Regions from separate parts of the Homo sapiens genome. Here regions 1 and 3 are each linked to region 2. The links come from fine-mapping of genetic effects on gene expression. A gene starts in region 2. Each other region holds a variant in brackets. All regions are shown on one strand. Distances are between the middles of the regions. Region 1 overlaps NINJ2 (ninjurin 2). Region 2 holds the start of NINJ2 (ninjurin 2). Region 3 holds the start of LOC105369595 (a long non-coding RNA gene).

What was found. PIP is the estimated chance that this variant, and not a neighbour inherited with it, causes the effect.
Region 1: its variant is fine-mapped to the expression of NINJ2 in whole blood (TOPMed, PIP 0.94).
Region 3: its variant is fine-mapped to the expression of NINJ2 in whole blood (INTERVAL, PIP 0.96).

What each region holds. Positions count from the first base shown.
Region 1 is chr12:623,461-628,685 of GRCh38, forward strand. All of the region lies in intron 1 of NINJ2 (ninjurin 2), which reads right to left. Among named protein-coding and RNA genes, the nearest start is that of NINJ2-AS1, 4.8 kb to the right of the region's middle. RefSeq lists enhancers at 1-253, 254-997. The variant T/C (reference allele first, on the strand shown) is at 2,878.
Region 2 is chr12:660,987-666,211 of GRCh38, forward strand. NINJ2 (ninjurin 2) reads right to left here and starts at 2,459. Exons shown (of 4, transcript NM_016533.6): 1 at 2,342-2,459. The coding sequence starts at 2,374.
Region 3 is chr12:584,915-590,139 of GRCh38, forward strand. All of the region lies in intron 1 of NINJ2 (ninjurin 2), which reads right to left. LOC105369595 (a long non-coding RNA gene) reads right to left here and starts at 1,572. Exons shown (of 2, transcript NR_134624.1): 1 at 1,334-1,572; 2 at 784-1,084. It also overlaps the pseudogene RNU7-103P. The variant T/C (reference allele first, on the strand shown) is at 3,042.

The sequences.
Region 1 (5,225 bases), 38 kb before region 2:
AAATCAGGGAAGGTTTCTTCCCACCCACTCAAAACTTCACTTTTCTCATCATCCAAACTCCGAATCTAAAAGCCTAGTTGTTATTTACCAACTTGCGTCCAAATCCACTCTTGGGCTTAGTTTGCAACCAGCATGTACCCTGGGATGAGTGAGAGGCGACAGGCTAGGAAGGGATCTGGGGTTTATTAGTGACAGACCAGGCTGCTAGGTTTGGCTGAGGTGCCACAATTTGCACCAGGCAAGGGAGGTGAATTCAAATACCAGGATGTTGGGCAATATTTCAAAGAGTGAGGCTGGGCATGGTGGCTCATGCCTGCAATCCCAGTACTCTGGGAGGCTGAGGCAGAAGGATCGCTTGAGCCCAGGAGTTCAAGACCAGACTGGGCAACACAGTGAGACCCTGTCTCTACAAAAAATTTTAAAAGTAGCTAGGTGTGGTTGTGCACACGCCTGTAGTCCCAGCTGCTCAGAAGGCAGAGGTAGGAGGATCGCTTGAGCTCAGGAGGTCAAGGCTGCAGTGAGCTGTGATCACACCACTGCATTCCAGCCTTGGTGACAGAGCGAGACTCTGTCTCAAAAACAAAAACAAAAACAAAAACAAAAAACAAAGAATGAAATTCATTGCTATTACAGCCCTTCCTCTACCCTCACCCTGAACTCTACGTCCCATCCTCTTACTCTACAACCTACTATGCAAATGACTCATTGTTCTCTACAATGTTACCCCACTGGGTTCAATCCTATCTGAGCTTTGTAGGACTCCAAACCTATGTGTAAAGGTATGAGCACTTCAAAGGAAGATTGGCAGGGAAGGCCAATCCTTCTGCTTATGTATTTTATTCTTTGATTTTAAAAATCAATTTATCCAATAGATATTTATGGAGCTCTAACTGGGTTAGGATACTAGTGTATGGGGATACAGAAAAATACAAAGATATACCAGGATACTGGAATACGGGAAAATGTATGAATGAATGAGATCTGGATTCACTTTCAAGGAGCTTGCCGTCTAGTAGAGGAAATGACATACAAATAAGCCACAACACATGGTATAAAAAATATATATGGCCGGGCACAGTGGCTCACACTTGTAATCCCAGCACTTTGGGAAGCAGAGGAGGTAGATGACCTGAGGTCAGCAGTTCAAGACCAGCCTGGCCAACATGGTGAAACCCTGTCTCTACTAAAAATACAAACAATTAGCCAGGCGTGGTGGCATGTGCCTGTAATCTCAGCAACTTGGGAGGCTGAGGCAGGAGAATTGCTTGAACCCAGGAGATGGAGGTTGCAGTGAGCCGAGATTGCGCCACTGCACTCCAACCTGGGAGACAGAGTGAGACTCCATCTCAAAAAAAAAAAAAAAGATGGCTGGGCGCGGTGGCTCACGCCTGTAATCCCAGCACTTTGGGAGGCCGAGGTGGGTGGATCACCTGAGGTAAGGAGTTCGAGACCAGCCTGGCCAACATGGTGAAACCCCGTCTTTACTAAAAATACAAATATCATCCTGGCATGGTCGTGAGCACCTATAATCCCGGCTACTTGGGAGGCTGAGTAATGAGAATTGCTTGAACCTGGGAGGTGGAGGTTGCAGTGATCGTGCCACTGCACTCCTGCCTGGGCAACAAGAGAGAGACTTCATCTCAAAAAAAAAAAAAAAAAAGATATATATATAGATATATAGATATATTTGCCCTAGCTTAGTAACTATCATTAGCAAGTGATATTTAAGCTGGACTCTGAAGGATGGGTAAGAGTTGGAGAGACAAAGATGAGGAAAAGGCATCTAGGTGGTAGGAATGGTATGCCAAGAGCCTTGGAAGCAGCAGGTGGACCTACATGCAGACTAGCAAATAGTTCTATTTGGCAAGAACATAGGGAGAGGGAGTAGACAGAGAGAAGGTCAGAAAGCCAAGGTGAAGTCGAGACCTTGCATTTCAGGCTGAAGAGTAGTTTGGGAATTTCAGGGGAATCACTGAAGGTTTTTGAGTAGAGTTCATGGTGATCATAGCTGTATCCTAGAAAAATTAATTTGGGAGTTCTCTGGAGGCTACGTTGAAGAAAAAGAAAGCATTGGGTAGGGGTATTAGAAGAGGGAACATCTACAGGAGCCTTTTCCAGCAAGCTACTTCTGGTCAACTAAGCCAAAAGGGACCTTGGCCTCCGTTCTCTATGGTCCTCACTGTCTGGACCTCTCATGGACGGTACAGAAAGACAATATAGTTGTTAGGGGCAGAGTCTACTATAAAGTACCTTCTCAGAGCTTGGTCCACCATGTGGAATAATTATATCCAGATTTGTTTTAAAGATTAAATGAGATAGAGTCTATCAAAACACTTATTAGCATAGAGGGAACGGATAAGCAATTTTTAATAAATGGTTGATAGGATAATCATTATCCTATGACTCATCTTGTAGATACGTGTGTCTAAAACTGGAATCACCTCCTTTATGGGTAGGAAGCCACAGCTTCTTGTACCAAGTAGATGATCAATGAATATGAAATAAACAGATATCATGATCGGTGAGGGATTAGGCTGTAAGAGTTTCATTAAATTTAGGAGAATCATTCCCTTTGAATGAGGACTGACATTTTTCTTGCCTGAAGTGTTCCCTGTTCTCAGAAGTACAATCACTATAACTTGGCAGATAGGATGGGATGAGTTTGTCCTTGAGACAGGACATCAAGCCCCAGTTCTGGGTAATGTTTTGACCTCACTGGTCCTGGCAAGCATTAATCTGAAGTCACTAGGCCTCTGGGCCTGTTCCTAATGGGCCTGTGTCCACCCAGTGATGAGGGATTCATAAGAAGCCCTCCTAATATCTGCTGGCTACATTCACGGGAACCTTGGTGTAGGCCTGAAAAAAGAGCTGCGTTAG[T/C]GAGGAGGTAGTGGGAGCTAAGAGTTAGTATACAGCAATATTTAGGCGCTGGACTCCTGGTTGCTTTTCCCAATTCTATTGCCCAGAACTAAGAAACTTTGGACATTCTCTTCTTCTCTCTACCGCAGGGCCTGATCATCAAGGCATCCCTGAATACTGACTGCCTCCTACCAGTGCCTGCTACCTACAAAGGCATTGATGCACTAAGTGCCACAGGGCCCTCCAGGACTTAAAAGAGTTTCACTCTAGCTGAACATAAAAGGTGAAACACAGAAGAAATATGGCACTGTAGTTAAGGGTATAAACAATGGAGTCAGGGTGCCTGGTTCAAATCCTGGCTTTCTCACTAGCTGACACGAGGCAGTCAACCTTTCTGCACCTTAGTTTCCTTATCTCTAAAGTAGGAATAATAATAATAATAGTATCTACCAAATGGGGTACTATTAAGAGTTAAATAAAATAACTTAGCTTGGTGCTGTAGCTTGCGCCTATAATCCCAGCACTTTGAGAGGTTGAGGCGGGAGGATTGCTTGAGCCCAGGAGTTCAAGACCAGCCCGGGCAGCATAGTGAGATCCTGTCTCTACAAAAATTAAAAGAGTACGCAGGTGTGGTAAGACATGCCTGCAGTTACAGCTACTCAAAAGGCTGAGACGGAAAGGTTGTCTGAGCCTAGGAGTTCGAGGTTGCAGTGAGCTATGATTGTACCACTGAACACCGGCCTGGGTGACAGAGCCAGACCCCATCTCAAAAAAAAATTCAATAGAATAATTTGTGTAAAGTGCTAAATACAGTAATGGCCCATAGCAAGCACCTAATAACTGTTAACTATTATTTTTGAATTAAATCATAGCATCCAACCTGAAAAGCAATATATGGCAATAAGGAATTTTCTAGGCCATGCCTTTAGAATTTTTATCATCCTTTTAGAATTGAAGCTTCTTGTTAGAAGATTCTGTCCTGTATTTTCATGGATGCCCCAACAGCCACCCTCCCTGCCTTGCAATCAAACAGGTGCTCAAATATTTTTTGAGAATATAATTAAGTACATTTCTACTTTCTAATTTCTAAATGAATGAAATAGAGAACTAGGAAACTTAGGACAGTAAGACTGATGTCAGCTGGGCAATCAGAGAAGGCTTCATGGAGGAGGTGAGACTGACGTAGCCCTTGACAAGTTCGATAGGATTTAGATGGATAAAGTGAAGCAAGGAAAATTCTAATTATTGGAGCCTCGAATGGGTTGGGTGTTCATGAGAGGCAGGGGCAGACTTCGTGGGTACAGCTGCAGCATACTGCACACACATTAAGGGTGGCACCTCTGTGCCCAGACCTGGGCTTAAGTGGAACCAGACTCGCCTGGGACAGACTTTGGGCGCAGTGACAGGAGCCCATCAGCTGCTCAAGAGACCCCTGCCAAAATCTCAACTGGAGCTGGGCACAGTGGCGCATGCCTGTAATCCCTGGGCACAGTGGTGCATGCCTGTAATCCCAGCTACTTGCGTGCCTGAGGCAGGAGAACCCGGGAAGTGGAGGTTGCAGTGAGCTGAAATTGGGCCACTGCACTCCAGCCTGAGCGATAGAGCGAGACTCCGTCTCAAAAAGAAAAAAAAAGTCTCAATCAGCTAGGCCAAGTCCTTCCTGTCCTGTCCCTGTCCCTGCCGCATCCTCCCCGCCCTGCCCCCGGCTCCTCTTTCACACCCTGTGCCAGACAGAAGGCCTGGGAGTGAAAAGACTGGCCATGGGGACAGAGAGCTGGATCCAAAGGTCAAGGCTGAGTTTGCCAGAGCCTGCAGGATCCCTGCACCGCTTTACTGGATCCCCAGGTTGAGCTGAGATGCTGCTCTGGGTGGAGAAGGGGCCATGAGCCTCTGGCAGGCCTCTGTGTCACACCTTTCCACCAGGGAAAACTGGGTGTGGATGTTTCCCCTTCGTATGTACTCTGAGATCTCTATGAGGAGTCTTCCTAGAGGGGAAGGGGGAAGCCTCCTCATAGAGATCTCAGAGTACATAGGAAGGAGCCAGGTCTTTCCGTTCTTCTGCGTCTCCTCACAGCGTCACCTACAAGGGTCTGGCACACAGTGGACACTCTTCCTGGCTTTTCTGGTACAGAGTGACCAACATAACAGTTAATAGCATTTCCTCATTTTACAGACAGGGAAAGCAAAAAACATAAGCATGGTAATGCATATATAATACGTGTCTATGGCAGAGGCATTCGAACCAGAATGACTCCATCTTGAATAGGGGCTGGTAAAATGAGGCTGAGACCTGCTAGGTGGCATTCCCAGGAGGTTAGGCATTCTTAGTCACAGGATGAGATAGGAGGTCAGCACAAGACACAGGTCAC
Region 2 (5,225 bases):
TAATAAAAAGCTGTCAGCCATTGATGTACCTTTACCACCCATTGGTGATAATTGTACCACATTTTGGGGAAACATTGTTTTAACTAAAGAGTGTTATTGTTTTGTTTTTAGAGATAGGGTCTGGCTCTGCCGCCCAGGCTGGAGTGCAATGGCATGATTGTAGCTCACTGCAACCTTGAACTCCTGGCTTCAAACAATCCTCCCACCTCAGCCTCCCGAGTAGTGGGGACTACAGGTGCATGCCACCATGCCTAGCTAATTACTTTTAAATTTTTAATAGAGATAGGGTCTTGCTATGTTGCCCAGGCTGATCTCTAGCTCTTGAGCTCAAGTGATCCTCCTGCCTCAGCCTCCAAAATGCTAGGATTACAGGCGTAGGCCACCGTGCCCAGCCAAAGGTGGACAATAAATTGTAGAAAATAATGGATAACCTTCTGAGCAAAGGAAAATGTAAGATACAAGAATTAAATAGCATATTAGAAGAGAGTGAATGACAAATGAAGAGAAAGGTACACTAACACCTCAGTTACCTGCTAGAGAGAGACATTCATCCAGCCTAGCCAGTCATTTCCTTCTCCTTCCTCCCACCACCTCTTTCCTTCTGAACCTCTGGTTCAGATGCAGAGTCCTTAGCCTGTAACTCTGGATCGTTCAACCCATCAGCACATAAGAAACTTGCTCTTCTGAGAATGAAAATAAGCAGCAACACAATTTCCTTAACAACCAAGGATCTTATAGAGGCAAGAACTAGAAGTAAGAAGAAAACACATACTAGGGACAGAAGACATGGACTGGAGGTCTTGGGCCAATTAGGTGACCTTATTCCTATCTCAGAGCCTCTCCAACTCATGGCTTCCTCAACTCATTCATTTAACAAATGTTTTCTAAAGCAATGACCGTGTACCAAGAGTTGCCTCATGCACTCGGGCTGCAGCAGTGAATAAAACAGGAGAGGCCCTGCCCTCAGAGATCTTGTGTCCTAGTGAGAGTGACAGGCAATACATACTAAATAAATAAGCAGTGTAACTTTAGGTGGTGAGCAGTGCTATGAAAGAAATTAAACAAATGATAAAGACAAATTGGGGAGGAGGCATCCTGTGAAGAGGTTGGTCAGGGGAGGGCTCCTGGGGGAAGTAACATTTGAGCTGAGACCTGAATGTACTAGGAAGGGCCAGCCAGGAGATAAGCCAGGGAAAGAAGGTTCCAGACAGAGGGACAAGCAAGCCTTGCGGTGGGACCGCTCTCGGGGCTGGCTGCCAATCCAGGAAAACAGCACTGGGTATGCAGTTGTACTAGGTGAATGGTTTTGACACAGCACACCAAGCAGTCCTACAGTTCCCTGGTGGTGTCTCAAGGGCGGAGGGGCCAAGGACAGAGACTCTGCCAGACTCACGCCACCCTGCCCAAAACACACACAGAGAACGAGAGAGAGAGAGAGAGAGAGAGACGCGTGCACATACTCTGCTTCAACAAAACAGCTCTTCTTTAATCCGAAGTGTATATTGGGTGGCTGCTTAAGATTTTGTTCGAGGACCAGGTTCAGGGATCAGAAATTCTTGATCTCAAAAGTCCTTTTCCACACTTTGTTTGATTCTCTGCAATGTTACACAGCCTCAGCAGTGGTCATAGAAGGGTTCGTTCTATTCTATCCATTGGCAAGGAGTCACAGAGTGCAGCTCCCAGCAATCTGGCTCTCCTCTCACCGTAACATCCCACCCTTTCCCCTCCAGCAGTGGACTGGAACCTCTGATGCCTTCCAAGCCCATCCCAGCTACAGAGGGACACACATCTCTGCCTCTTCCTAGGAGATTAGACTGATTTCCTTTCCTTGCACTGTCCAAATGAGACGCTTTCTGTCCTACACAGTAGAGCTTTGTGAAGACAGCCGAGAAACGGCTCAAGTTTTTTCCAACCTGTAAAATGCAAAGTTGGCCAGCTGCCTCTCTTCCTAGCCTCAAAACTCATATATTTCCTGTCTCCCCGGCAGCTCTAAGAGAAGTCTCTACTGTCCTGGGGTTTGGGGAAAGCACTGCTCAGAATGTGAAATCATTTTCTGGTAATACGGATCTAATTAGCTCTTTGACTGACAAGAGGAAGCAGAGGCCAAAAGGGAGTTAACCAATCTGTTTTTCAGATATTTCAAAACAAGTGAAGAACCAGATAGGGAAACAGAGAGAAAGAGAAAATAAAGAGACAAAGCCTAGGGAGCATTTGGAGAAGGGAGTGAGTAAGAAGAGAACGGGGAGGGAGAATATCAAGTGACTAAAGTATCAATCCTCTGTTCTTCCAGCTTCACCTCTACTCCCGGTCTCCCCTCTGCTCTCTTCCAGAGAGAACTTACTTGAAGGTCGATGTTTTCTCTTGCTGATTCCATCTCGCTGCCCTCAAGTCCCTTCACACGCACCGGGTGCCGGGAACAGACTGCGTGGGCTCCTCCAGGCTCCGCCGTCTGAGTCTCTGCTGCTTTCTTCGGGTGGGAGAGAGCACACAGCTGGCGGGACAGACCTGCCATTCATCCCTCTGATGTGGGATGCCCGTCTTGGCTGCAGCCTCTGGGGGAGGTGTGCACCTGCACACACGTGTGAGTGTATGTGTGTGCACATGTGTGTGCTCCAGGAGGTGGCACATGGCACACTGATAGGTGACCTTTTGAGTTGGTAGTGACAGCATCATTTTCACCAGTGGCTCCAGTGACCTTCCAGTCCCAGCGGAGCCATCTGAGGTCACCCAGCCTGCTTTGAGCTAGTAGCTTTATGACTGGCAAAGAAATCCTGCATGTTTATCAAGCAAATTGAAAAACAGCCTGAGGACAACGCTATCTGACTTCACCGCTGGGTCCAGTCCCCAGTCGCCACGGGTGGAGTGACCTCCAGCACAGTCTCAATACTGAGGCAGAGGGATTTCCGTTGTTCTTTGCTTTGTTCCCTATATCCCTAAAAGTTTTTAAAAAAATTGTAGTTTACCTAATAGGCTCCAAAGCATAGGCTTTGTTCTGCAAAGTGAGTGAACAATACGTTTTTACTGACGGATTGTTTGATTCCTTCAACTCCTCCCTTGATTAGCCATAGAGGGAGCAGGGAGTAGTTGTACCTTCGAAGCTTGTTTATGCAAACAGTGGTATTCTCCCTACTTTTAAAATAAAATTACCAGGAGGGAGTCTTTTTTTAGAAAGTTTTTTTTTTCCTCTCCTGTTTACCTTAGAGCCCAAAACTCTTCTGGCTTGTTCCTGAAGCAAGGTTTAGACACAAGCTTGTGCAGGTGTGGGTGTGGGTATGTCTGTAGACGTGCATGGCAGGGTGTTAACCTGTAATCCAATTCAGGGCTTGAAGAGGTGCGGGCAGGAGGAAGACAGGCAGAGTCAACACGTTTACCCTCACCACATTCAAATGTAAAAAAAAAAAAAGGCGATTTCTTCAGTTCTATGAAATGCCTTTATAAGTTCCCATCCCTCTGGACAGTGGTGCGAGGGAGGGTTGGATGATTGGATGGGGGCCATATTTTAGTCTAATCTATGAAGCATAGTTGGATTTAATCATTTAAATGGTAAACAGTCCACTTTAGACACAATGCTCAGTCTTTCGGATTTGCAGAAGATGGCACCTAGGTGCACAGGAGGGCGGGGTGGGGACGGTTCTTGCATCTATCCTGTGGCCTCTCCATCTCGGCTCCTTTCTGTTCTGGAGCTGCTGGGCCCACGGGCCCGCCCGAATTGCTGACTGCTGAGGAGACACAGGTCCTGCTCCTGGGTCTTCTGCTGGCCTTGGTGGCTGATGTCTGATATTAGGCCAGAGTCACTCATGGGTGATTCTCTTTCTGCCTTTGAGATCCAGTGTTCTCCCTTGCTGTCTGCGCTACCTTGGCTCGTGGCAATGTGGACCATCCTGAGACCTGGCTTTGACTTGTATGTGCCCCCATCCCACTGTATCCGCTCAGTGGCCCACATCTCTAAGATAAGCCCCTCGAAATTTTCCTGTGAGATGCTTGACCAGTGCTCCTGAGCCCCCTTAGGCACATGGGGACTGAGGGCTGCTGACGAAGGGCAGGGGAAAGGCAAGCTCAGCCCCACTTCCAGCAGAGTTTGCTCTGATGTGGCTGCTCCAACTGACACAGGGCAGTCTGCGAGGTGATCTCCTTCCACATTCCTGAATGGAAATGAGACCTGGAACCCACTCTTCTCAGCACTCCTTAAAAAGTCTACCAGTAATATCTATCACCCCACCGCTCATAATAATACCACTATGTATCAAGCACTATTCTAAGCACTTTTTTTTTTTTGAGATGGAGTCTCGCTCTGTTGCACAAGCTGGAGTGCAGTGGCGCCATCTCGGCTCACTGCAACTTCTGCCTCCTGGGTTCAAACGATTCTCCTGCCTCAGCCTCCCGAGTAGCTGAGATTACTTCTTCCCATAGTCCCCTTAATCTAGAATCAGAAAATGTACGCTTTGTCTTCTTTTTTTTTTTTTTTTTCCTGTTTGGCTGGGATGTATCTGATGTAGAACTCTATGACAACAATTCAAAGGGAAATGAAGAAATTTAGAAAATCCTCTCTCTCAAGAAAACCTGGTTGTCAAAAATATTGTCTTGGCTGGGCAGCATGGCTCATACCTGTGATCCCAGCACTTCGGGAGGCCAAAGCCGGAGGATCTCTTGAGCCCAGGAGTTCAAGACCAGCTTGAGCAACATAGTGAGATCCCATCTGTAGAAGAACTTTTTGGCTGGACATGGTGGCTCACACCTGTAATCCCAGCATTGTGGGAAGTAGAGGCAGGAGGTCACTTGAGCCCAGGGGTTCAAGACCAGCCTGGGAAACACAGTGAGATCCTGTCTCTACAAAAAAAAAATTTTTTTTTAATTTAGCTAGATGTGGCAGCTTGCAGCACCTGTAGTCCCAGGTACTTGGGAGGCTGAGGTGGGAGGATTGCTTGAGCCTGGGAGCTGAAGGCTGCAGTGAGCTATGATCATGACACTGTACTCCAGCCTGAGTTGACAAAGCAAGACCATGTCTTAAAAAAAAAAAAAAACTTTCTGGAAAACCTTATTTCGGATGCCAGAAGCAAAATATTAACTATTTATTTCTCTTTGCACTCCTGTTGTGAAAATCCTCATTATCTTTTAAATAATATGGATACATCTGGCTGAATAGAGGGAAACAGGAACAAAAAAATGCAAAAGAGAAAAGTACTCGAATATATTTCAAAAAATTTCCTATTAATAAGCACATTGGT
Region 3 (5,225 bases), 76 kb before region 2:
GAGACCAGCCTGGCCAATATGGTGAAACCCCGTCTCTACTAAAAATAAAAGAAAATTAGCTGGGCGTGGTGGCGGGCCCCTGTAGTCCCACCTACTTGGGAGGCTGAGGCAGGAGAATCACTTGAACCGGGGAGGCGGAGGTTGAAGTGGGCTGAGATCGCGCCACTGCGCTCCAGCCTGGGAGACAGAGCGAGACTCCGTCTCAATAAACACATAAATAAAAGCAAATCCTTCTTTTCGCTAAGGCTGCATTTCCACCGCCATGAAATGGAGGCTGTCTCTGCAGTGACCTTCACCTGCCGCCAGCGGTTCTCTCCCCGCCATTCACTGGGCTCTGGGGGCTCTGGGCTTCCCTGCTGCAAGCTCTTAACCCTTAGCGTGAGCAGATGGTAGAACTGCCCATGCCAAGAGGGGTCCATACCAACTTCCGGAATAAACGAGGCCAAAGGGAAAGAGTAGGTTCGCCGGGGACAATCCCACACCAGGAAGCCCCACGATTCAACAGCACCACCCAGGATTTCAGTGTCAGTCCTATCCTCATCAGGCAGGCAACGGTTGGAGGAAGGGAACGGTTGGAGGGAAGGGAAGGGAACGGTTGGAGGGAAGGGAAGGGAACGGTTGGAGGGAAGGGAAGGGAACGGTTGGAGGGAAGGGAGGCTGAGCACAGGCACGGTCACGCTGTGTTGCACCCTGGCCTGCTCTGCGGATGAGTCAGCAGCATCGATTAAGCACCCACTGTGTGCAATGTCCTGAACTCTGTGCTGAGATGATAGCTCTGTTTGCTTTCCAGCCAATCAGCAAATATTTATTGAGCATCTGTCTATTTGGGGCAAGTCAGAGTACAGAGGGCATGGCTTAGAAAGGAATAGCTCAGACGGAGTTTGTGATTAATTACGGGAATGGGTGCCAAGTGAGAGATACAAAGGGTGGAAGAGCAGGAGCGCCTCCATCCAGGGGCGTGGAGGAGGCTCTGTGGATCTCAGGGCCATCTCAGCTGGCTCCAGACAGACAAGAAGACTCCTTCAGTGTTCTTCTGGTAATCACAGAAGCTCTGCGCTGGGAACCAGTACCCTAACAGAGGAGACTGGTAAAAGGTTTCCAGATGAGCATTAATGTAACCCACAGTAATTTGCATGGCCCAGTAAAAAGGAACATATGGGGCCCCTCGTTCAAGTTGATTAAGGGTGAGCCTCAGGAATGAAGTCTAAAACAGGAAAAAAGAAAAAAAGACTCGGAATTTCAAGATGGCAAAAGCAGAGAATTAGACCAAATGCAGGACCCTTCTCAGCACAGGGCCCTCCTGAGCAGATCCTGGGAAGCTGGCCCAGCCTACCTGGAAGAGCAGGAGATAAGAACTTGGGATTTCTGGTGACCAGGAGGATCACAGGCCTTGGGAAAGCCAGTGGCTGCTTCATTATTTCCATCCCGGGTCAAGTTCGGCCTCCAGAAGGTGAGATGGCCCAGCCAGATCTGGCTCTGTCCTTAGCCCTTCCCTCTGGTGGCCTGCCACTCTCAGATGATGGTGTCAACAAGACCAGAGGCTGCTGGCTCTTTTCTCAAAAGCCAGGACCAGGGAACAGCGCAAAATACAAAGGCCAACGCCTTCACTGGAGGAAGGGGTGGGAGCTGCTTCTCCCTGGGCAGCGCACGCCCACTCAAAGGCATCCAACCTCAAAGTGCATAAGCTCCCATCCGCCCACAGGGCATGCGTTTCGGCCCTATGTCCAACCTTCCCGTTTTACAAATCAGGACACAGAACCATCGGGGCAAGGGACCTCTCCAAGGCAACAGAACTGGGCAGTGCTGAAACTGGGACAAAGGCTTCTGTGACTCCCACCAGGGTCCTTTCCCCAACAGCCAGGTGCCTTTCTGTGCCCTCTGACTGGATCGTAGGGATCCAGGTGTGGGGATCCCTCTGCAGTGACCTTCACCTTCGGGGCCCTGCTCCCATGAGAATCACTGTTGCCCACGGGGGACGCCATTCACTGGGCTCTGGTATTGTGGAATGGAGTTGAAGTTTGGATGGAAGAGCTCACTGTCCCCTCTGCAGGCCTTTAACCCTTAGTGTGAGCAGATGGTAGAACCCCTGCCAGTGCCAAGAGGGGTTCATACCAATATCTGGGATAAACAAGGCCAAAGGGAAAGCGTAGGCTCCCCAAGCACAGTTTCTTTTCTTGCTACTAAACACCTGTGGGAGGAGGAGGCTCAGCCCTTCCTGTGGAGCATCTCTGCCAGGGTTCAATAGTATTGGACTAGAGTCCTGATCTGGGTCAACAAAAAGACTAGGGGACCAGGAGGCAAGAGTCAGCTCACCAGGACGGGCTGCAAACGGGGAGGTCTGCATCCAGGGTGAAGCTGCCCCTCCACAGGAAGCAGGCCCAGGAACCCCTGGCAATGCAGACAGGCTGAACCCACAGCACAGCCCCCATGGCGGGAGCAACTCCCGGTCAAGCGGCGGCAGGAAGTGCCCCAAAGGTGTCCACTTTTATTGTGCAGGACAGAATGTCTGCACATGCACCATCTTACAGAATTTGCACAGCTGCCTAAGGACAGAAGCTGAGGCTGCATTGTAAGGACACGCAAAGGGAGCCCCAGAGGACTGAAGTCCCTTTCTTAGGGCTCCTCAGGCTCTCTGACCAGTGAAGTTCTACAGCTGGGAGGGGAGCTGGGCTTTCCTAGTCTTGGCCCGATGCTTGTGGTCTGGCCTCTGACCACTCTCCATCTCACCCTGCCCAGCGCTGAGCCATTCTTCCCTGCCCCGGGGCCTCTGTGCAGGTGGGGGGTGGGGGTGGCCAGGGACCCTGCGCCTCACAGGCAGGTCACCAGGATCTGTAGAGCAGATTGAACACCCCATCCCCCGTGTTTGAAATGCCCTCTGGGCCCTTCCTCGCCGTCCACCCAGGAAGCTCTTCCTTCCATTAAGCTGGTTATTTCCACCACAGGGCCTTGGTGACACCTCTCACCTGATCACTATCCGTTCTCTCACTGGACGGTGAACTCCTTCAGGGTAGGAGCCGTAGTATGAGGCTGGCACTTACTGA[T/C]AACTAGTAGTTGTTTTATCCATGAAGGGAGGGGACGACCTACACAGGCCTACACTTTAGGCATGACACGACAGCCAACATAGTCCCCAGACCAGTGTATCATCCTTCCACTATGTAAACACAGATAGGTTTCCCCTTGAAAAAAATTCCCACTATGTGAAAAGCCAAATCAATTTACAAGACAGCAAAATGGCGGAAGGAAGGGAAGGGACGGAAGGGACGGAAGGGACGGAAGGGACGGAGGGGACGGAAGGGACGGAGGGGACGGAAGGGACAGAAGGGAGGGAAGGGAGGAGGAGACATCTTGCAAATGGACTCCCCGCAGACTCCTTCAAATAGTCCCCTTTGTGAATCTCTTTCTAATCTTAGAATGAGGAAAACCTTTATAACTATGACATCAAATCCGGAAGCCATAAAGGATTAATACATTTGACTGCATAAAATTAAAATTATTTGAATGCAAAATAATAATAGCATATACACTTATAGCGCTCATTTCATGTCAAACCCTGCACAGAACACTTTATATATCTGAAGTCGTGTCATTCTCATAACAATCCCTGGGATAAGTACTGTCCTTATCTAAGGGACTCTGAGGTTAAGTAACTAAACTATGGTCATTCAGCCAGTAAGTTACAGACAAAACCCAGTAGCCTGCCTTCAGAGTGTGTGCTCCAGCCATTTCCTCGACCACCACACACCACACAAAATCAGGAGACAAAGAGAAACGGGGGGAACACTGCTGCACAGAGCACAAAGGACTGATTATCCTGAAGTCTGTGGAGGCCTTAAAAATGAGCCAACAGAAAAACTGAGTACAAACAAGCAAGCCCCTGAAGAAACATCACAAATCTGTGTAATAGATATGATAGCCTACATGATTGGCGAAGACTTAAGAGACTGATAATACTCAGTGTTGGTGAAGACATGGCTAAGCAAGCACTTTCACGTCCTTGGTAGAAATGTAAATTACTACCAAACGTACCAGAATTGTTACAATCATTTTTTTTTGGAGGACAATCTGACAATTATCTATTAAAATTTAAAATAGTCTTACCTAGTAAGTCCACTTCTAGGAGTCTCCCACAGAATAAGTCTCCCACAGAAAATGCTCCCCAAAGCTCAAAAAGACAAGCTATTCCATGCATCATTATTGATAATGTCAAAAACTGGGAATGAGCCAAATTGTAATCAAGGGTGTGTGGGCTAAATAAGCTGGCCTACAACCACACAATTAAATACTACATGTGTCTTTGAAAAGAGAGAGGTGTTCTTGTTCAATCAGTAAAAAACAATGGACAAAATGAAACAAAACAAAAAGAATGAGGTAGATCCCTATGATTAGATACAGAAGATATCTAAAATGTATTTAGTGGGGAGCAAGTCAGTAAGAACATGATATGATTCTATATTGGTAAAAATGAAACAAAGTATTCAGAGGATCTACTTTATATTTCAATGCATTAGAATAAGCACAGGAAACAGATATGGGAGGAATTTCTATCACACTAAAGACTTTCCCTTTCTTTCTAAGTTATGTATTTTCCCAATTGTAGGTTGTTTTCTCATGGGAGTTTGGTTTCAGTAAAAACCAGAGAACCTGCTAGACAAATTCTAGAAGAGCTCTAACACTTCCACTTCTAATTTTTCACACCTAAGACATCATCCTGTTACAATCAGGAAAAATATAATAAAGATGAAATTAAATATGCGATAAATAGCAAAAAACACCTTCCCTGTTTCTTTCTTTCTTCTACAAGCATGTGCTGGGTATGCCTCCTGAGTCCTAGGCACTGATGTCTCAGGCTGGGCATGCAGAGACGAATCCATATGGCTCCTGCTCTCAAGAAACTTCTGGAAGGGGGGAAACAGTTGGTAAATTTAGGGGGGGATTGTCTCCTGGACTCAGTTTTCCTCCGTGGGGTGAGGCAGATGGGCTGCTGTGGCAGCCGTCTCAGAGAGGGCGGGGTCTCCCTGTCAGGACCCAAGGGGTCCTAGGGTACAGGTGGAAGGCAGAGGTGGAGCGGTGTGGGGCAGCGGATCAGGGAGGGGCTGATGAGGCACTTAGGCTTTGTCCTGAGGGCAGCAGGGAGCAGTAGGAAGGTTATCCGCAGCCAGTGGCATCCTTAGAGCAGCGTCTTATTTTTTATTTTCGTTATTTTCTGTAGAGACGGTGTCTTGCTA